Regions from separate parts of the Homo sapiens genome. Here region 2 is linked to region 1. Evidence: fine-mapped expression QTL. A gene starts in region 1. The other region holds a variant in brackets. All regions are shown on one strand. Distances are from middle to middle. Region 1 holds the start of CCNJL (cyclin J like). Region 2 has its middle 61 kb from the start of MIR146A.

The links.
Region 2: its variant is fine-mapped to the expression of CCNJL in left ventricle (GTEx, PIP 0.96).

Annotation. Positions count from the first base shown.
Region 1 is chr5:160,306,929-160,318,646 of GRCh38, forward strand. It overlaps CCNJL (cyclin J like), which reads right to left and starts at 5,636. Exons shown (of 6, transcript NM_001308173.3): 1 at 5,436-5,636; 2 at 4,930-5,044. The coding sequence starts at 4,995. RefSeq lists silencers at 5,565-5,684, 5,795-5,854.
Region 2 is chr5:160,540,726-160,552,443 of GRCh38, forward strand. No RefSeq gene overlaps it. Among named protein-coding and RNA genes, the nearest start is that of MIR146A, 61 kb to the left of the region's middle. The variant G/A (reference allele first, on the strand shown) is at 6,679.

The sequences.
Region 1 (11,718 bases):
CCTGCCCCATGTTACCTGACAGGAGAACATGCAGGTCTGTAGGAAGCTGGGGTGGCATCCTCCATCAACCAGATCCTGTGCTGGGCACCACAGTCAATGCTGTGCCCACACACACAAAGACTGTCCTGGCAGATGCCGAAGACGAGATGAAGGATTCCCAGGAAGCATCCCTGCACACAAGCATTCATTCAACATTTCCCAGAAGAGTCCATTTGGGGCTGTCTCACTCTTTTGTGCACTCCCAATGCCTGTGCCTGCATCAGGTGAGGTGGGGGACACCCTGAGGTCCCTCTCTGACTCAGACACTGGTCTGGGAATGCCAAGGTAACAAGGCACACCTCATACCTGCAAGGAGCTCACAGTCTAGTGGGTAGGACAAGTCACTATGCAGGGTGACAAAGATGGTGAAAGAAGCAAGGATGAGGGTGGGGCCAGGACACATGACAAAGGAGAGGCTTAAGGGACAAGGAACGTGGCCCTCAAGCTGCATACCATCCAATGCTCTCGTTCCATCATGTGTAACCAGCACTCACCAAAATCTGTTAGTTCTTGGATTCAACACCCTATTAATTTTAAACTTAGGTGGATGCATCTTTCAAGAAAAAAACAAATGGCCCCGAGTTTTAATCTGGACAGACCTGGCACAGACTTGGTTACCAGAAAAACATCACTAGCAGCCTCCTCACTGGTGACGCCAGCCTGGTGACAATCTACTCCTCCTTTTGGTTCAGGGAAGAGGGTCAAGGGGCACACGTAGCAGGCAAGAAACCCCACATCCCTGTACTGGCTGGCACTCCCACCCCCAGCAGAAAGGTCAGAGGAGCTGAAGGGAGCGGGGTCCTAGGTGGGCTTCTGCAGATGCAGCAGGGACAGGAAGAAGGATCCAAGGAGGAATTTAAGGGCTGAGCATGGGATAAAGGTGGCCTACAGGAAGGGGAGGGAGAGATTTCTCCAGAGCAATTTGGGCTGGAGGAGGGTTCAACTCCCCACATTCACCCATTGGGATGCCAGGCTGCTTAGAGGGTCTTACCAATGGGGTCTCACTCCTGGTTCCCAGCCCTCAGTAGATACATGATTTTTGGTGAACTAGTCCCTTTCCTGACTTCAACACCATCATAGGACCAATGGTCCAAGTGGCTAACAGTGCCTTTCTTACAAGGATTACCCATCACATCTGTGGACCCCTTGGAGGGTGGTCACAAACCCTAAGCCTTACTCTGAGCAGCACTATGTGAACGGGCCATCACTGTCTTGCAGCAACCCTAAGTGGAGAGGTGCAATGCCTGCCAAGTACCCACCATGCACCTCACACTGTTCTTAAGTTATCTCACTTAATCTTAACATTGCTGTAAAACGTTTCTCCCAGCTTACAGAAGAGGAAAGCGAAGACTGACTTATTCATTCTCCTTGTCATTCCATACACATCGGGAAGCTGTGTTCATGGCACTGAGGCCCCCGCAAGGAAGAAGACAGACACAGGTCTCTTCTCGTGTAGCATGTATTCTAGTGTGGGAAGAAAGGCAGCAAACAAACGAAAAATAACTTCAGGCCAGGCACGGTGGCTCACGCCTGTAATCCCAGGACTTTGGGAGGCCGAGGCTGACGGATAACGAGGTCAGGGGTTCTTCGAGACCAGCCTGACCAACAGGTGAAACCCCGTCTCTACTAAAAATACGAAAATTAGCTGGGTGTGGTGGCACATGCCTGTAATCCCAGCTACTCAGGAGGCTGAGGCAGGAGAATGGTGTGAACCCGGGAGGCGGAGGTTGCACTGAGCTGATAGTGCCACTGCACTCTAGCCTGTGCGACAGAGTGAGACTCCGTCTCAAAGAAACCAACCAACCAAACAAACAAAAAACAGAAAAACACTTCAGATCCTGGTAAATGCTACAAAGAAAAAGCAAGGTGATTTAATAGAGTGACATGGAGAGGCAGCAATAGATTAAGGGAGACAAGCAACCATGTGAGAGTCTGAGAAACACAGAATCCAAATAGAGGAAAGAGCCAGTGCAAAGACCCTGAGACATGAACAAGCTTGACTTGTTCCAGGAACAGAAAGGAGGTCAGTGTGGCTTAAGAGCAATGGCATGGAGGGTAGGGAAGGGGTAAGAGACAAGGTCAGAGAGCAGGCCAGAGCCAGGCTATGCTGGGTATTCCACGCAGTGGTAAGGACTGGGAATTTTAAGTGCAGTGAGATGACATTGGAGGTCTTTAAGCAGAGAATGACACAATCTAAATTCTGGCTATTCTGGGAAGAATGGATGATAGGGGCCAGATTTAGAGAGGTTAAATGAGCAGATCAGGGTTTCACTTCCATCACTAGCGTGCATGCAGTACCAAGACTTGTTTCCATGGTGTCAAGTTTTTGATACCCTGTAGTATGATGCCAGACTGGAATCTCATATTTGACAAACTGGGGCTCCCAACGTCTCAGTGATCTCAACTTCGCCTCCTGTGTCGGTCAGGTGAGGATAATTGCTTGTGGTTGTATGGAAACAGTTACACAGCACATATGTAAACATGCTTTGTATTCATCAGGCAACATTCAACTAAGAGTGTCTACTGTGTGCCACGCTCTTGTAAAGTTGTTCTACAGTGTTAGAAACATATTATCAGAGTAGACATTTGAGAAAAACAATTACCCTGTCTGAGAAAAACAAAATGCCAGCCCTCATTCCTCAAGAAAGGCGAGGCTAGTATGGCTACTAAGTTCCCCTATTCTTCACTCTTCTTGCCAAACTCCATGAAGCCAAATTTTTGAAGAAGCATTTTCTTCTTTGAAGTGGGAGAGGAAATAAAGTAAAGGAGAACAATAGCAGTATTTTGAGGAGGTGGGACATTATAACCAAAGGAACTTGGGATTTGTCCTAATAAGGCCAGCTTTAAGTCAAGGTTGACCTTGGCCATCAGTCCTTGGGTGAGCTTTCTATTTCTAACCTGCAAAACTGGGACAAACTCATCGTCTCTCCGAGGTGGGCAGCCCAATAGTAAACTCATACGGCACTATGACATGGCTATAGCAGTTCATGGAGCCTTTCTTGCTTCTTTGAGCAGCCGAAGGAACATTTAGGACATCCTCCCTTATGTATAAAAGGTTGGGCATTCTCAGGTAACTAAACAAATGGCATTTATTGCTCTTAGAAATCCTTCCCTCTAGAAAGGGGCAAATCAGGTAGAAGTCGTTCCTCCTAAGCTATGAGCAGAAATGACAACCACTTGAGTCTATGATAAACAAGGAAGCCCAATTTCCACGGCAGTCCTCACTAGCTCCATTCAGCCACCTCCTCCAGAAAAGGGCCAGGACCATACCCCTACCACTTTCCTTGCTTTTCAACTGAACCAACAAGACCTGGATTTCTTCTTGTCCAGATGCCTAGAATGTGCCACACGTTGGCCACTCTGTTCTGGGAAGAAGACCAAGGGAACAGATGAAAGCCACAGCCTTGCCAAGCAACGCAGGACAAAGACAGGTCAGCAGGTACAGAAAGAAAAGAAAAAGGCATTAATTGGACAGGAAGACAGCTACTCAATGAGGTAAAAACACTGAGTAGCTGGTGACCCTTTAAGCAGAACTCCTCCAGACACTCGGAGCAAATGCACTGACTGTGAAACCTGTGTGGGGGCTCAGGTACTGCACTAGGAAGACCTTTTCCTCCCTGTATTGGGCGCAGTAGTGTCCCCCCAAATGTCATGTTAATCTGGAACTTCAGAATGTGACCTTACTTGGAAATGGAGTCTTTTCAGATGTAATTAAATTATGATGACATCACATTGGATTAGGGTGGGTTCTACTCCAATGATCGGGTATCCTTGTAAGAAGAGAAAACAGACAGACAGATAGCACCATGTGACAGTGGAGGCAGAGACTGGAATGATGTACCTACAAGCCGAGGAATGCCAAGGATGACCAAGCACCAGCAAATTTAAGAAGGAAGAAGGAAAGATCCTTCTCTAGAGCCTTTTGAGAGTCATGGCCCTGCTAACACCTTGATCTGGGATCTTCAGCTTCCAGAGCTGAAATAAATTTCTGTTGCTTTAAGCCCTCCAGTTTGTGTGGTCCTTTGTAATGGCAGCCCTAGGAAACCAATCCATTCACTACTTCACACCTGTTCCCCAAGCCACCCCTTGCCAATCTCAGCCCAGGGACTGGAGGCAAGACACACAGGCCATGCCTCCAGCCCACCTGGACTCTTCCACCTTCCCAATGCCCCTCAGCCCTTCTCTCCTTGAGGGGAGGGGTGTGCAGGGATCACATTTCAGCTGCTCCCACCCACCTTCTGCCACAGGAGGCAAACCGGCAGGGGAGTTTTTGTTTTCTTCCCTCAGCCTCCCTGTTTTGTAGCCTCTTTCAATTATACAGGTGTTCCTTAAATTTCATTCGGTCCCATTCTAGATATACACATAGATACACGTATTTGGCCATAACCATGTATTCCCTGTACTACCACTTATCTTTATATAGAGTTACTACTTTTACTTAAATTTGTTTTAAAATAAACTGCGACATCATTATTACAATAAATGGAAAATCGCAAACGCAGAGCTTGCTAGATACATACACATTCTTAAATTACACATTAGAATGAATACACAATATTTTTTAAAGACCCCTTCACGTACGGTTTAAAATAACCTAGGGTGGCAATACTATAGGAAACACTGCCTTAGAGGTACAGTGGCTGTCTCTGACTAGTTGGCCCAGAGTTCTGAGCTCCTTATCAGAAAAACCAACTTCAATCTCTCCCATCTCCAGTCTCTAACCCCCGCCCCCCAATTCCGCTCAGACACTCCGGGAGAAGGTAAAGGGTAAGAGGAAAAAAAGGCACCCGGGAGTTCTGAGTTCCCACGCAGGCGACCTGAGAACACGAAGTCGAGACCGAAGGAGACTGTACCCAGTCTTGAGAGTGACAAGGGCAGGGAGGGACTGACCTTCTCGCGCAGGGTGCAGTGGACGTCCGAGGCGACGCGCCCTTCCCACCACGGCTCATCCATCATCGCGTACGCAGCGCCGCTATCCGAGGCTACCCGGCTCTCAGGGCGCACCCTGCGTGGACACGGGCAACTTCAGCGGCCAGAGCGTACCCCGGGCTCCGACCCCCGGTGTCCCTATCCTCTCTCGCCCCTGGCCCCGGGCCCCGGCGGGCGCCCCCTCCTGCGCCGCTCAGAGGAGCTGGAGGTCGCCTCTGGTCCGCGGAAGGCTGCGGTGCCCCCTCCCCTCTGCTCGCCGGACACGGGGCGATATGGAGCTGTGCAACAACTTGCAGAATTTTTATCTTCCCTTTTGCAAAAGTTGCAGAGAAAGTTGTCAACTCCGCTAGCTCGCTCGAGGCTGGGGCTCTGGCGGCGGCCACAGGCTCGCCGTCCCCAACTCCTCCCCCGCCGCCCAGCCTTTGTCCTGCTCCCACATCCTGCCCTCGAGCCGGGGCGAAACTCACGCATCCTCTCTGGGCGTGGGGGGCTGCGAGCGCCGGGCCCCTCCCAGTGCCGAGCCAGCCGTGCCCTCTGGTGCCTGCCGGCGGTTGGACCCTCGTCCGAGGCGCTCCGCACTCCCGACGGCCGCCTCCGCAGCCCGACTAGCCCCCGCCGTCGCCGCGCCCCTGCGTGCGCTCGGGTCCCGCCGCGGCTCGCAGGCTCCCGGCCGCCGGGGGCCTCCCTCCCTCGCTGGGGGAATTGGGGGCCGGGCCTCGCGCATGCGCTGCCGGCGCCCCCGCGCCCCGCGGGGCGGGGGGCTGGGAATTGGAGCCTTTCTTTGCCAGCTCTGGCTCCGCTTCCTGCCCGCCCTCCTCCCTCGCTTCGGCGGAAAGCTTCTCTCTCACCTTCGCTGAGGCTAGTGGTAGCCTTCTGGGCACCCCTCCGGCTTGCGCAGGGAGCAAAGGGACCGCGGCGCCACCTGCGCGCACCACGCGTGAAACGTGCGGACAGGACGCCCCCAGAAAGTTCTGCCTTCCGCGCGCACTGCTCTAGCCATCCTTACGTCGGTTCCACCTGTTTTTCTTTCTCTCTCTCTTTTTTTTTTTTTCCTGTTTTTGTTTTTTGTTTGTTCTCCTCTTCTTTGAAACCCGCCCTGCCATGGGGAGGTAGATTTCCAAACGGACAATTCCAGTGAAAGCTGCAGAAAAACCACCCTTGTTCACCCACGAGTCCCTAATTCTAAAGGAGCCTAAGTCACTGGTATTATTGTGCTCCTGCAGAATATGAACTATGCCTCACATTGGAGGAAAACCAGTCTTTTTTTGCCGGGTCCGGTGGATGGAAAACATTGTCTTTTTAATTCAATTGCTTGCTTTTGGAAAGTCATCCTTTTGAGTCAGCCCATCTGATGGCATAGCATTGGGCTATCCTTCTTGGCTGATTGATTTTTGTGATAGTTTTGGAGATTCACAAATTTGGAATCAAATCCACTTACCAACTGGGTGATTTTTGTCAAGTTCCTCAAACTCAGAGCCTCGTGTGTAAAATGGAAATAAAAGTTAAACCAACCTGCTGAAAATTAAAGGAGATAATGCGTGTAAAGGGATAATCACTACACCAGGTATTAAGTGAACACTCAGTAAACAACTGTGACTGAAGAGCCTTTAGTTTCTGACTGCTTTCCTGCACATAAAGACACACCTGGGAAAAAAAAATTAAATCAGCTTTGATAAGCTTCAATTGGACCTTGAAGAGCAGTTTTAATGTAAAACAAACGAACCATTTTAAAAGTGTAAGATACCTAAAAATAAACTGAATAAATGTGCAGGCTCTTAATGAAGACATTACAAAGGTTGAAACATAATAAAGAAGGCTTGAAGGAATAGAGGCACAAACACCAACTTAACCCAAATTACTCTATTTAATAAAATTTTAATGGTTGTGGGTAGATTGGAGGAGGGGGCACTTAACATGTTTTCTAACCTTCAAATGGGAGAATATCTGCGAGAAAAGCTAAGAAATTTATATTTTAAAAATGGGGGGATGGCGGGGCGCGGTGGCTCACGCCTGTAATCCCAACACTTTGGGAGGCCAAGGGCAGGCAGATCACCTGAGGTCAGGAGTTTGAGACCAAACTGGCTAACATGGTGAAACCCTGTTTCTACTAAAAATACAAAAAATTAGCCGAGTGTGGTGGTGCACGCCTGTAATCCCAGCTACTTGGTAGGCTGAGGCAGGAGAGTCACTTGCATCTGGGAGGCGGAGGTTGCAGTGAGCCGAGATCGTGCCACTGCACTCCAGCTTGGGCAACAAGAGTGAAACTCCGTCTCAACAAACAAACGAACAAAAAAACTGGGGGGACAGACCTGTATTATCAAATCTTAAAGCATATTGCAACACTATAGTTAAAACAGTGTAGTGTTCACACAAGAATGGATGGATTAAGCATCAGTGGAATAACTGAAAGTCTAGGAAAATTTAATATATTTAAAAATTCACTGTATGATAAATGTGGCATTTCACTTTGTTGGGACAAGTATAAACGGCTAAATTATTTAATAAATTAGGTTGGGGGAAAAAAGTAAAACTAAGGACTTGTTTAAATATCACCAAAATAAATATAAGAACTCAGAGAACTACAAACAAGCAAATCACAAGAGGATAAGAAGAAAACATACACGAATTATACGGAGGGGAAGGCCTAGATACTAAGACATGGGAAGAAACCAAAGGCAAGGTGAGTAGACAAATTTGAATAAATATGCAGGATCTAGATACATCAATTATCATTGCCAAAAAGGCAAACGACAAATTTGAGAAAATATTTTTAACAAATGTGACAAAAGGTTGATGCTACTTTCTAGACCTCTGATAAATCGGTATGTAAAACATTAACACCCTACGTGCAGAAATGGATGCAAGACATGAGTAGGTATGCCGTCAGAGAAGGAATTCATATGGATAGATGTTATTTTTAAAATGCTCATACTCCCTAGCATGCAAATTAAAAGCTTTTTTTAAAAAAACAGTGGGGTACTTTTTTGTTAAGGAATTTTGGTCAATCCACAGTGTTGTTGGGAATATAAATTAAGACCATCTTTCTGAAAGACAACATAAATCAAAACATTTTAAACTGTATTATTTGATCCAACTCTTCCACCTGTAGAAATTTATTCTTTTAAAAAAAGCAGATTTATTTCAAAGGTGTTTCATCAAAAATGCTTTTTCATCATAGTGAACCATTAGAACAGGGAACTGGTTTAATAATTATTTGTCTCTTAAAAGCATTTTTTAAAGGATGCATGATGAATTGGAGAAAATGTTTATAATTTATTAAATAAAAAGGATAAACTGGGCTGGGCACGGTGGCTCATGCCTGTAATCCTAGCACACTGGCAGGCTGAGGTGGGAGAATTGCATGAGGCCAGGAGTTCAAGACCAGCTTGGGCAACATAGCAAGATCCCGCCCCCGCCCCCCAACACACACACACACACACACACACACACACACACACACACTAGCCAGGTGTGGTGGTATACACCTGTAGTCTTAGCTGCTCAGAAAGCTGAAATAGAAGAATCACTTGAGCACCAAAGGTTGAGGCAGCAGTGAGCCGTGATTGTGCCACTGCACTCCAGCCTGGGCAACAGAGCGAGACACTGCCTCTGAAAACAAAAACAAAAACAAGAGAAAGAATAAGCTGTCTTTAAGGGGATGAATAAAAACAAAAAAAGATTAGAGTACGATCCCAGTTAAACTACATTCATGCACACACACATATGCAAAAATATTAACTGTGTAATCAGAGTGGTAGGATTATGGTAAATTTTAATTTACCTTTTTTCCTAATATTTCTGTATTTTCTAAATTTTCAACAAGAAATATGCATTATTTCATAACCAGAAAAAAAGAGTGAATGTTACTTTAAAATAATCACATGACATATCAATATGTACTAGAGGGTTCTTCCATTCAACAACAATGAACAGCATTGTTGTTTTGTTTTGTTTTTCATAGCAGTATTATTTATTTCCCAGTCTTTCTATGCTGGGTACATTGAAAGAAGACAGGCCTTTATTATTCACTAATATGTACTGCCCTTTTCCTAAACTTCAGCTATCAATTATCAGGAGTTTGGATAACTAAGAGGGAAAGCAGAAGCTTTGGGCTTTTCTCCAGGGGTATTTCAGTAGGATTCTAAGCATACTCATTCCACACCCCTTTGTGTATCATTCTCCAGAGTCCCTCATTTTCTCAGTATTTCTGAAGAGTAAATATACATTGCACCAATAAACAGATGGTTTTGTGCTGAGTCACTGTCCACAGGTGCCCTTAGCAGAGAAGGCTTCCTGTGCCGGGCAGCAGGAAGTACCAATGCAACTGGAATCACTTCTCCCATCCACCCCCAACCAAGACAAGAAGAAGCATTCATTAAGCCATTCAAAAACTAAACTTTCATTAAGTGCTTACCATGAGTCAGTTACCATCCCTCCACCCTCAACCTCTGAAGCTCACAGGTTGGGAACAACAGATTTAGAGCAAGTGCATTCTACTTATCTTCAGCTTTCTTATATATCCCTAAAAAAAAAAAAATCTGCCCTTTTCAATCTTCCTTAGAGGACAAATTGGTCTAATATTTTCACTGTGATATTATCAACTGCCCAGTTTGCACTGAACTTTCCTTTTGCTTTTCATATGATACAAACTCTCAAACATGGAAAAATGTACACGTTCTCCCTCTGGTCCCAGGCCTTGTTCTCCTCCTCCCCAATGATAACCAGAGTCTTATGTTTCCTTCGGAAGTGATTTATGCATTCACCAGTGTAGACATTCATGCCTTTTTCTCCTTTTACATGAAAGGTAGCATACTCTACACATCCTTGTGTGCCTTACTGTTTTGTGTTTTGTTGTTTTATGGCAGTGCCCAAAGAACTGCATGGCATCCCGTAGTTCCATAGTATGGATCCATCATGATGTGTGGACATTTAGCCTGGGAATGTCCATACATTTCTAGCCTTCTGCTTCCATATAACCACACTGCAGTGAATATTTGCTTCCATGTAACCATACTGCAGTGAATATCCTGACAGGGTCAAGCATATAAATTCCTCAAATACTCAACTGTCCAGGGGAAGTTGAGGCATATACTTTGAATAGTGTTTCCTCATGGTGTTAATGGTTGGCACTGCTCCATTCAGGACCAAAAGCATGAAGCCTGGCTCAGTTTATAGAGACAGACGGAAGACATCTGCCTTATTACCACTTTGATCTTTAACCAAAAACCAATCCAATGCCTTTAAATGATTTTTAATCGTGTGCTCTACTTAGTCAAGAGAACATTTGCCAAATCCTTTATGATCCTTGACTACAAGTTCTTGAGATATGAGTCGGCAGATTAGGTCTGAGAACAAGGCAGGAAGAATAAAAAAGCAGCATTTTGCAAACAGAACTCAAAGCCTAGGACATTCATAAAGCTGGTCCACATTACTTTTTTAAATTTAAAAAGGCACAGAAGGAATAAGTGAAAAATAAACCTCCCTCTCACGCAGGGCCAGCTCCATCCATATAGAAAATTTTATCGTTGAACCTGTGTTTTGTAAATGAAGTCCTTCAGGACAGTGAAGCATGCAGGGAGCAGAGGAGACACATGATAAGTGTCTGCTGTTCCGTTCTCTGTTTGCATGTACTATATCCCGTGCCTCATGAGCATAGAATTCCAGTGGACCTGCGATGCATGGAGTTTGGTGACATTCAAAGGGAGCAGAAGGTCAGTGGATCATGTGTACAAGTGGGCATGGGGTGGGGGGAGTACCTGAGAGGCTGTGCTTTCTATTTGAACTAGAACTTGCTTTGGAACACGGAAAGAAGGTGTTATCAGTTTCTGGGGCTGCCATAACAAAGTACAACAATGGGATGGCTTGAAACAAGAGAACTTTCCTCTCTCACGATTCTGGGTACTAGAAGTCCCAAATCAAGGCATCAGTAGGGCCACACTCCCTCTGAAAACTCTAAGGAAAAATTCTTTTTTCCTCTTCCTGGTTTTTGGGGGTGGCCAGGTATTACAACTGGAGTCCCTTGTTCTTCCTTGGCTTGTAGCTACAGCACTCCAGACCCTGCCTGTGTCTTCACACGGGCTTCTTCTCTTTCTCTTCACGTAGTCTTCTTTTTCTTCTTCTTTTTTTGTTTTTTTTTTTTGAGATGGAGTCTCACTCTGTTGCCAGGCTGGAGTGCAGTAGCACAATCTCGGCTCACTGCAACCACTGCCTCCAGGGTTCAAGCAATTCTCCTGCCTCAGCCTCCCCAGTAGCTGGGATTACAGGCACGCACCACCATGCCTGGCTAATTTTTGTATTTTTAGTAGAGACAGGGTTTCACCATGTTGACCAGGCTGGTGTTGAACTCCTGACCTCAGGTGATCTACCCACCTTGGCCTCCCAAAGTGCTGGAATTACAGGCGTGAGCCACCACGCCGGGCCATGTCTTCTTACAAGGACACCGGTCATATTGGACTAAGGGCCCACCCTACTCAATATGATGTCATCTGAACTAATGACATCTGCAATGAACCTATTTCCTAATAAGGTCACATTGTGAGCTACTGAGGGTTAAGACTTCAACTTATCTTTTGTGGAGGTACACCATTCAATCCATAACAGAAGGCAATAGTATTCTAGGAAAGATGAATGACCGGGGAACCCTATCATATGCTTTCTTAGGGGTGTTGTGTCCCTGTGTTAGGCAACCATGTATTATGACATAAATAGAAAGGGAAAAATGGGGCAACCCATAGTTCCTCTTCCTTCAGC
Region 2 (11,718 bases), 230 kb after region 1:
AGTCACAGCTACTCAGGAGGCTGAGGTGGGAGAATCACCTGAGCTGTGGAGGTTGGGGCTGCAGTGAGCCGCAATTGCACCACTGCACTCCAGCTTGGGCGACAGAGCAAGATCCTGTCTCAAAAAAAAGAACAATAAAATGAGATATGAATACACATGTTGCTATGATTGCTCAGAGGAAGAAAGAATATGAAGGAGGATGACGGAAAAGAAGGCGATATTTAGTAGTTGACCTGAGTCTTAAAGGATGGCTTAAAGTTCTCCAGTTGGATAGGAAGGAAGGAAGAAGGAATGAAGGAGAAAAGAAGGAGAAAGCAAAACATGAGCAAAGGCATGATGGCATGGTTGGATTTGGGGAATTGGAAATAGATTGGTGAGAATAGAGGAGGACGGCCGAGGGGCTGGAGAGTCAGAAACAGAGACCTCATCATGAAGGGCCTTGAATGCCACATTTTGAGTTTGAACTTTTCTTGGAAATGGTAATGAGCCATCAAAAGAGGATAAGCCAGACAGTAACTGGGTTTATAAAAAAGAATGTTGAATTAAATAAAACAACCATTCTGTGATTTTCATTTGTTCATTCACATATGTATCTATGAATGCACACATATATATGTTGGGTTATGTGATGCCAAATATGAGGTTGATTGAAATTGCTCCATCTTAGATTATTTTGGCATCTGGACTCAATCAAAAAACTGAAGATTTAAGGCAGAGGCCAGAGCACTAAGTGGCTTGGTGAAGGGAGCTAAAGACCCTGAGTGGTAGGAGGCTTTATGGACACAGAGATCTGAATTTGATTCCCACGTTGTCACTTAACAATTTATACCCTAGGACAAATATCTTACTTTCTCTGACCCTCCTTATAAGTAAAATGGGAATAATAGTCCCTACTTGAAAAGTTCGTGTGTGGATTAAGTGAGATCATGTGGTAACATATTTAGTAGGGTGACTGTCACATGCTAAGTGCTCAGTAAATATTAGTTACTTTTATGGTGCACTAATTTCAGGCTCACGTATCTTCTACATTACTTTGTGGTATGGCTGCACACGGAATACCCAGTTTTTAAAAACGTGCATACGTTGGCCCCACCCACGGGGATTCTGATGTAATTTATCAGGAGGATGGCCTAAACGTTTTCATAGCTCCCCAATGTGATTCTCATGCACAATGGAGGTTGCTGCTGATTCTCAAAGGGCTAGACTCTGAAGGAGCAGCATTAGCATTGCCTGGGAACTAGTAAGAAATATAAAACTTCTCCCATCTACTGAATCAGAAATTCTGGGATTAGGGGTCAACAATCTGTGTTTTAACAAGCTCCCAAGGTGATTCTAACATACACTTAAGTTTTCAAACCACCAAACTAGGGCTAGAAATTCAGAGTGGTCAGTTTAGCCTTTAGCATCTCTTATACCTGACATGATATATATCTGAAATCCCCTGACCATGCCCCACTCCAAACAAAATATAGGTGCCAGGTACTGATGATATGCAGCTGGATGAGGAAGACAGAATTCCTAGTGCCATGGAATGCCCAGTGTAAACACAAACAAACAAAAAAACCTAGGTAGCTGCTCTGGCCTTGGGCAGACTTGCGAAGGGTGACTTAGGTCCTTAGCGTGTCCATATCATACCTTTCTCTTCCTTAATCCCCTTCTTTCTGTCCTGCCCACGTGAAAACTTGCTCTCAGGTATGGCTCTAACTTTAGTCATTTTTAATTTAGTTCAAGCTATTCTGAGGATGAATCATGTTTGCAAGCCAGACAGTGTGCCCCTGGGGGAAGGGACTGTGTCTCTATTTCTTTGTATGGACACGCTTCTCTCCTAGCCCTCTTCCCAGTTCCATTTCCTGCAATAACATGTTGCTTGCATTTTAAGTAGTATAGTGCTGAAGAGCACTAGCTTTGGCACCATGGACTTGGGGGTTTGAATCTGCAGTTTCTTAGCTGTGTAATCTGGGGCAAATCAAGGCACTTCTTGGCAGCCTCAGTTTCCTCATCTATAAAATGGGCTTGATAATTTTTAACTTCAGACAGTTGTGAAGACTGTATAAAATAATGCATGGAACATGAGGAAATCTAGGATATAAAGAACACTCAATGAATGGCATATTGTTATCAATAGTTATTAAACTTCCTTTTCTTATATGGAAGAATAGGTTTTATCTGGAGTATATGATAAAATGAATGTCAGACTCCAGTGAATTGTTTAGAAGCTTTGGGGAAGAGTCTGTTTTCCCTGAAGCACAGTTCCAATATTGATAGTCCCTTTCCAAGCAGCCTGGAACTCACATCTTCTAATGCCTCCAGAATCACTCATTGCCAAACCCTTCCGATGCTTTCCTATGGTCTCACCAATGCTGATGCTAAAACCAACTCGAGCCAGTCCTAAATCTTCTCTTCAGGGAGTTTAATGCCTTGAAAAGGCTTCAAGCTTATTTTAATTGAATTATTTCATTCAGTGTCAGGCTTAAAGAGCACCCTACAGGGCTCCAGCTCTGAATGAATGCATTAAAAAATCAAATAATACAGATTATGGCATAATCCTTGAGGGAGATATAAATAGAATCCCCTCTGTTGCCTTTTTATTTCTCTATGTTGGTTAATAAACACACTTCTATAGCATTTGCTTTTCCCTTTTCTCCCCTAATGCTCTTTAGTTGCCTTCGTAAGGAAGAGAATAAAACTCAGAATATAACAAAATGTTGGGGAAGAATTTACCATATGAATATTCAGGGCTGGAAGGGATTTTAGACATTATCTGGTCTAATTTCTACATAATTTACCTGGTGTGGGCAGAGGTGTAGAGAAGGAGATGGGTTGGCCAAGGTCATTGAACTTCTCTTCCAGCTCAACATCACTCATCATCAGAAAAATGCAAATCTGAACCACAATGAGATATCATCTCACCCCAGTCAGAACGGCTATTGTCAGAAAGACAAAAAAATAACAAATGTCAGTAAGGCTTTGGGGAAAATTATACACTGTTGGTGTATACACTGTTGGTAGAAATGTAAGTTAGTACAGCCCTTATGGAAAACAGTATGAAGGTTTCTCAAATAATTAAAAATAGAAATAACTGCGAGATGGTCTGGCAGTACCCACCATTGGGTGTTTATCCAAAGGAAAGGAGATCAGTACATCAAAAGGACAATTGCACCCCCATGTTTATTGCAGTGCCATTCACAATAGCCAAGATGTGGAATCAACCTAAGTGTCAATCAATAGATGAATGGATAAAGAAAAGGTGGTATATATATGCAATAGAATACTATTCATCCATAAAAAAGAATGAAATCCTGTCATTTGCAGAAATATTGATGGAACTGGAGATCATTATGTTAAGTGGAATAAGCCAGGCACAGATAGACAAACTTTGCGTGTTCTCACTCATAAGTGGGAGCTAAAAAAGTTAATCTCATGAAGGTAGAGAGTAGAATGATGGTTACCAGTGGCTGGGAAGGGTGGAGGTGAAGATGAATGGAGGTTGGTTAATGGGTATAAAATACATTTAGATAGAAGGAATAAGTTCTAGTATTGGCTGGTATAGTAGGGAGACTATAGTTAACAATAATTTATTGTATATTTCAAAATGGCTGGAAGAGAACATTTGAGATGTTCATAACACAAAGAAATGACAAATGTTTGAGGTTCTGGATAGCCTAAATACCCTGATTACACATTGTATGCATGTATCAAAATATCACCTGTACCACATAAATATGTATAATTATGTTTCAATAAAATTGAGATTAAGGACCGTATATTCTCAGTATTCATTGTGTGTATATATGGGATTTTGATTACAGAATACTGTGTATAGACACACACAGACATATACACATCAGTGGAGACAACTCCATTCATTAGGCTGTTTCTTGGGGAGCACACTTTGTCTTAAAAAAAAGACTTTGCTTAGGGTAGGGTGAATCTTAAGTATTAAAAAATGCTGCTTAATTGTTCAAATAGTAAAGCAGGTGTTTTGGAGGGAGGCAGGATCCAACGAGGCTGGACATTGTGTGGGAAGAAGAGAGAAACTCGATATTCTTTCCTGGCCTCCCTTCTACTCTTTCTTCTTGACCCCTCCCTGCCTTTTCCTCAAGCAAAGCCTAGGAGGGCCTTAGAGAACAGAGACCTAATGAGGCAAATGAGAAGTGGTTACTATGGGGCATGTGATGTGAACCCCCTTCTCCATGTTTCCTCTGAGATCTTGTCTCACCTGTTGTTCTCTGCTTCTTTCAGTGAGTGTGGAAGATGTACTTAAAGTGTTGACAGTTGTTGGGCAATATAAATTTGCCTTCTTTCCCTTTTTTTTTTTCCTTCGTTGCCCAATTAAAACCTTTTCGCTGCTTGGGTGAACTCAGAGGTAGTGATCAGCCTCTTCTGGATCTTCCCTTGAGGCAGGTTTTTCTGGGGTGTTCCTTCCTCATGGAGCAGGGCATGTGGCTGGCTTCAGCACTGGCCCTTCACAGCAGTAGCCATAGGCGTGGGGGCCTTTTTGGTCATCATTATGGGAGAGTCTGTTCATGATGCTCTGATAAAAGTTTATAACCTGGGGTTTTGGATCCATACCATATTCATAGTATTTCATTTTCTCTCTATCTTGGAGAACAGACTTGGGGAAAAGAAAGACAAAACCTGACACATTAAGTTCCTGCAAAGTTTGTTTCATTTATTTTTCACATCAGACCTTATTTTGCAGGTGAGAAAACTGAGGTATAGAGAGCTTGATGATGTACAGAAAGTTACATAGTAGAGCAGGGATTATCTAAGATCAGTCTGATACCAAAGTGAGCTTGTTTGTTTTTAATAATTCCAATGGACCAGAGATGAACACTTAAAGAATCTAGCTGGAGTTAGTTAACTTAGGGGTGGGAAAAATGTTTTACTTATAGAAAATATCCTTCAAAAGAAGGAAATCCTGCCACTTGTGACAACATGAATAAACTCAGAGAGGATATTATGTTAGGTAAAGCAGAAAGACAAACACTGCATGTGCTCACTTATATGTGGAATATAAAGAGACTGAACTTATAGAAACACAGAGTAGAAAAGTGGTTGCCAGAGACTGGGGGTGGGGGAACTGGGAGGATTTTGATCAAAGGGTAAAAATTTTCAGTTACAAGATAATAAGTTCTGGAGATAAAATGTACAGCATGATGAGTATAGTTGATAATAATGTATTGTATGCTTGATATTTGCTAAGAGAATAGATCTTAGATCTTAAGCATTCTCTCCACATGCATGCACGCATGCACACACACAGGCACAAAAGTAGCTAGTCATGAGTCATTTAATGACAGGGATGTATTCTGAGCAGTGTGTCATTAGGTGATTTCATCTTGGTGTGAACATCATAGAGTGTGCTTACACAAACCTAGATGGCAGAGCCTACTACACACCCAGGCTGTATGGTCTAGCCTATTGTTCTTAGGCTACAAACCTGTACAGCATGTGCTAAATACTGTAGGCAATTGTAAAACAATGGTGTTTGTGTATCTAAACATAGAAAAGGTAAAGTAAAAATGCAGTATAATCCTATGAGACCACTGTTGCATATGCCATCCATCCACTGAAATGTGATTTGGCACATACCTGTATAGGAGGTATGAATGTGTTAATTAGCTTGACTGTGGTAATCGCTTCACAGTGTATATGTATATCAAAACATCACATTGTGCACACTAAATATCTACATTTTTTGTCAATTATAACTCAATAAACATGGGGGGATATCTACAAGCCTCTATTTTTTCCTTCTGAGCAAGAAATAAGAAGAGACAAAAACTGCCACTTGAGGGGATGAGGGTAGTAATTAAGCAAAAAAGAATCCTTGACAATGATGAGACATTCATTGGACATTGGAATCGGTTGCCAAGTATTTAAACAGGCTGAGCTTTTCCTTAAGGGTGATCTTATCTATTAACTGCCTGAGAGGGGAAAGCATAGACAAGATGATGTCTTCAGCCCCTTGAAAGCTGTGTTTGGCAAAGAATGGTCTGAGACCATGTATATCAAAATTGCCTGGGGTGCTTGAACTGGAGATTTTCATTTTTTACAAGTTTCCTTTATCAATCATGGTCCAGTCAGAAAAACAGCAATGGAGAGAGATTTAATGCAAGGAATCAGTTACTGTATCAGTTATTTATTTTAGGGTAACAAAACATACTAATACCAGTAGCTTAAAACAGAATGTTAGAAATAAACTTTCGGTGCTGCAAAAGAAATAGCACTTGAGCATAAATTTTTTCAGCAAGGCAATTTACTTCTATAGAAGGGTGCATCTCACCAATGGAGCAATGGTGAAAGCACACCGGACAAGGGAGGGGAAGGGGTTCTTATCCTAATGCAGCTGGTCCCTACTGCTGTGTCTTTCCCCTATTGGCTAGGGTTGGACCACACAGTGTAAGCTAATTACAACTGGCTATTTTAAAGAGAGCAGGGGTACAAGCCAGAGTGGCGGGGTGAGTAGTTAGGCGGGAAGGATGGTTACAGAACAGGTGACTCAGGATGACTAGGAACAGAGCAGGTGACCAAGGATGACTAAGGTCAGAGCAAGTGACCAAGGGTGACTAAGGTCAGAGCAGGTGATAGAGGCTGGGAGAGGGTTGTTTACTGAAACTGGGGGCAAGGAGAAGTAAAGAACAAGGGAGTTAAACTTTAAAATGAGGAACAAAG[G/A]ACAGGGGAGCTGAATATACTGATACATTGGTTTTTTATCTCAGAACTCATTGCACTTAACAATTTACAGGCTAAAACCTTTGAAGAGAAATTTATTATATCCTACACAGAACAATCATTTATTACTGCTCATAAGTCTACTGGTAATTGGAATTGTACTGGGTTCCCTTGTATGCCTGAGGTGAGTGTCAGGCCAGTGGGGTGGCTCTGATTCTAGGGTCTGGATGGTGTATTAGTCTGTTTTCATGCTGCTGATAAAGACATACCCAAGACTGGGTAATTTATAAAGAAAAAGAGGTTTAATGGACTCACAGTTCCATGTGGCTAGGGAGGCCTAACAATCATGGTGGAAAGCAAAAGGCACGTCTTACATGGCGTCAGACAAGAGAGAATCAGAGGGCCAAGCGGAAGGGGTTTCCCCTTATAAAACCATCAGCTCTTGTGAGACTTATTCACTACTATGAGAACAGTATGGGGGAAACTGCACCCATGATTCAATTATCTCCCACTGGCTCCCTCCCACAACATGTGGGAATTATGGGAGCTACAATTCAAGATGAGATTTGGGAGGGGACACAGCAAAACCATATCAGATGGTTATTGGCTGGGGCCACTTGCTTCTACTCCGTGATGTCTCTCATCTTCTAGCAGGCTAGCCTGGGCTTGTTCATATGGCAGCACAGCAGGATTCCCAAAGTAACAGTGGAAGCATGCAAAGTCTCTTTAGATTTAGAATCAGAACTGATACCATAATGCTTTGGCTGCAATTTATTGGCCAGAGAAATTCATAAGGCCAGCCCAGATTTAAGAGGTAGAGAAAAGACCAGCCCAGACTCAAGAGGTGGAGAAATGGAATTAATATTTTGATAAGAGAAGCTTTAAAGTCACATTGCAAAGCATTGTGGAGAGAGGGAAGGGATTAATTGAGACCACTTTCTGCCAATCATCTACCATAGTTATAAAGGTGTTAAGAGGGCTGGAGGAATAGAAGGAAGGAGTATGCTAAGGATTAAAAAGAAGAAGGAGGTCTCTTGGTAAGGATGCTGCTGGTCTGGAGCTTTCATGGGCAGTGCTGGGGCCTCAGAGGGACATGTGTCATGCTGCTGCTGCTAGAATTGCTGAAGAGACAGCAAACTCTGCCAATGCTAGAATCAGGATGACTTTTTTTTTTTTTTTTTTTTTTTTTGAGACGGAGTCTGGCTCTGTCGCCCAGGATGACTTCTTTCTTGCTGCCAATGAGTCACATTGGCTGAACCTAACCAACAGCCCTGGCAAGGGAATCTGGGAAGTGCAGCATGTAGGCTTCCAGGGCTGGCAGTATAGAGCAGAGTACAGAAGCTGTGGGATTCTTATCATTGCAAAGACCCATTGCTCTAATATGCTATGATTCCAGGGCAGTAGTAAAATGTAAGCCCCATTCTATAGAGGAACACTGGCTGAGTCAACTGTGAAGTGGTGAAGGATTCCCAGGGAATTACTCTTGTTGATTTCGCACTGTGGCTTGGCTATGGGTAGAGTTGTGATTAGATAACTCATTTGAAAGGGCAAGAAAGTCAGATTTTAATCACATCATTATCTTGAAAGAGGTTATCTCTATGGAGAAAGAATAGATATAAAAATCTGATGTTTGCCAGCTGATGTGCTGTTTGGTGAATTGTCTTAGCTATTAGGACAGAGAATATTCACATGCATGTGTACGTGAGTGGGGTGTAGAGGGATGGACAATCAGAATGAAAAACTTCAAGGATGTGAATCACATGGAAATGATTAAGCAAAAAGCCAGTCTGCCAAAAGTCTGTCAGAAGACACAACTCTAGATTCTTTAATGAGAAAAAGAGATTTATAGGCATATTATTAGAGAAATCCAGTAGCTGCCATTTAGAGCCGATTACAAACTACTCCAGTTGTGTGGACACCCACAGGATGGGGTAAGGGGCAGGAAGGCAGAAGAGAGGGGAACAAATAGCACAAGGACATTTGCTACTGGGTAGTTTATAAAAATTCCACACTGAACACCTCAGATGCTTAATTATGGATCCTGTTGACATTTAAACACACAATGGACTGATGTGGAAGACTAATGTGTTGAAAATATGCATGACTTTCCTATAAGAACTATTTATCAATGATTTACCCTGGTCAATTGCTGTTTAAAATTGGCTTGCAAATGTGAAAAAACATAGCCACATAATCTTAGCTCTTTAAGACACTTTAGAAATCACTGGGCCGGGCGCAGGGGCTCATGCCTGTAATCTCAGCACTCTGGGAGGCCAAGGCGGGTGGATCATGAAGTCAAGAGATTGAGACCATCCTGGCCAACATGGTGAAACCCTGTCTCTACTAAAAATACAAAATTAGCTGGGTGTGGTGGCACACGCCTGTAGTCCCAGCTACTCGAGAGGCTAAGGCAGGTGAATCGCTTGAACCCGGGAGGCAGAAGTTGCAGTAAGCCAAGATTGTGCCACTGCACTCTAGCCTGGCGACAGAGTAAGACTCCGTCTCAAAAAAAAAAAAAAAAAAAAAAATCGTTGACCCCTTTCCCCTCATTGTGCATATAATGAAACTGGAGCCCAGAAACTAAAGCAGATAGTCTGAGGCCACACAGCTGTCTAGAACTCAAGCTTCATGGCTCCCAGCCCAGTGGGTTTATATTCCCCCCAACTTTGACAATATTTGTACCTTGTAACTTTTTTTTTGTTTGTTTTCTTGAGACAGGGTCTCACTCTGTAGCCCAGGCTGGAGTACAGTGGTGTGATCATAGTTCACTATAAACTTGAACTCCTGGGTTCATGCAATCCTCCCACCTCAGGTGCCACCATGCCTGGCTGTACCTTTTGTTTTGACAGAGGCTTGGTCTATATCTAAGTGAAACTTGAATGCCATGTTTTCTAGATTCATCAGAATCACCTATGGGGACTTTTTCAAAATAGATATGACTTAGACCCAACCCAAGTCTTCAGAGGCAGAACTCAGAGGTGAGGGAGCAGAGACTTAGGAGTGTTTATTTAAAAATAAACCTTGTTATGAGATTCTGAAGCCCTGCCTGCCATTTCCCTTGCCCCACCTTGTGCTAAGAATATATTTTAAGGCACTGTTTAGCAGAAAGGAGATTTCTTTCCTGTCTACATACTTTCAGTTGGGTAAGTCTTTTGCCCAAAGCTGATCCTCCACTGAGGGACTTCCCGGGAGGCTCACATGGAATACACACCCTCAGTAGAGATCTCTGTGGGCACGTCCTTTGCATTGAAGGATCAGCATGGAGTCATGATAAAGGCATTAGCCATCATCAAGTTGACTCCTTCAAGCTTCTGGAGTCCAGAGAAGTGTGGAATGATGTCCAGTTCAGGCCACCTTGAGGACTGATCCCCAGGCACCAGGCTGTTGGTGTGTTCACTCAATGGTGAGTGCCAGTTACAATCAGGGAGGGGAGCCAGCGCTAGGGATAAGTGGGTCTGAGGAGACCTTGTCTTTCTTGTCCAGTGCAATATCTGCAGCTCCTAGAACATTTCCTGGCACATGCTAGGTGTTCAGTAAATATTTGTTGATTGAATGAATGAAACGGAGTCCCTTATGGGTGTCAACGGTGAAACATCTGATTTTAATGTATCTTGAGTCACTCCATGTTCTCTTTCTAGAAGTGTGGTTGGATTCTGAGTGTAGTTGGGATTCATCCAGTAAAGCTCCATGAGGCTTAATATGTGATGATAAATCATAACCCTCCTAGGTGCTCAGAATCAATTTCACATCTCATCTGTTATCATGAGCAGAAGGTGTGAGAAAGTCCCCTTACAGCGGTAATACATCAGCTCACAAAAATCAAAAATGCCTGAAGATTAGAGAAGGGAACACTGTTATAGTCCATGGTGCTTAATCAGCTACCCAGACATTGATGGATTTCAGGGGATATTTACATCTGAATCATGGCATCCAGAATGTCCCAAGCAGAACCCATAGTTTATGGGCAGCATAGAAGCAATTTATAAAATTCATTTCTTACTATCTATAGTCAGAAACTAGGTCTCTCTTTGTAGAAATATTCTCTAACTAGAAAAATAAGAACAGAACTGGAGATGAAGCACTCTCTAGAACAATGAAAGTGCAAGGCTGCCAGAATCCTCACTGTGCCCATGACAGATAGGACTAACTGGTCGTAGTTTACTTTCCTGCCATGCCTGGGAGCAGCCTCATTGCTGCTTCTTCTTCTTTTTTTTTTTTTAAAGTTTTATTTTAACTTCAGAGGTATCTGTGCAGGTTTGTTACATAGGTAAACTTGTGTCATGGGGGTTTGTTGTACAGATTATTTCAGGTATTATACCTAATATCCATTAGTTATTTTTCCTGATTCTCTCCCTCCTCCCACCCTCCAATAGGTCCCATTGGGTGTTGTTCCCCTCTATGTGTCTATGTGTTCTCATCATTTAGCTCCCACTTGTAAGTGAGAACATGCAGTATTTGCTGTTCTGCTCCTGCGTTAGTTTGCTAAGGATAATGGCCTCCAGCTACATCCATGTCCCTGCAAAGGACATGATCTTGTTCTTTTTTAGCCTCATTGCTTCTTAATCCAAGGCTCTAAGAAGACACTGCTGGTTGATCTGAGGTAGAATGCTGAACTGAAACTCATTGACCATCACTGATCTAGAGTTTGTCTTTGATTATTATTTCTCTGGAAAGATATTAGCAGGCAATAAGAGAGAGTAAAGGGGAAAGCAAATGAAATACCAGGGGTTTGGAAAGAATCTTGAATTAGATCAGCTGGTCCTTTCCCTTTCTTCTGGGCAGGGTAATATTCAAAGTAATTGACTGAAGAATTCCTCAATGGCAGTGTTTCACTAATGGAGATTTTGGAGTCTATGCATCAGAATCACACTGGTGATAATGAAGGTACTTGTGCTTCTCTGAAGACTTACGGAATCAGGACCTCTGGGTTTGAAGCCAAGGACACTGCATTAGGACAAGCATCCCAGTGTATCTTAGTGACTTTAAAGTTGGAGAGACACTGCCCTATGGAGACCTGGATTCTAGTCCCAGCTCTGCCATGCA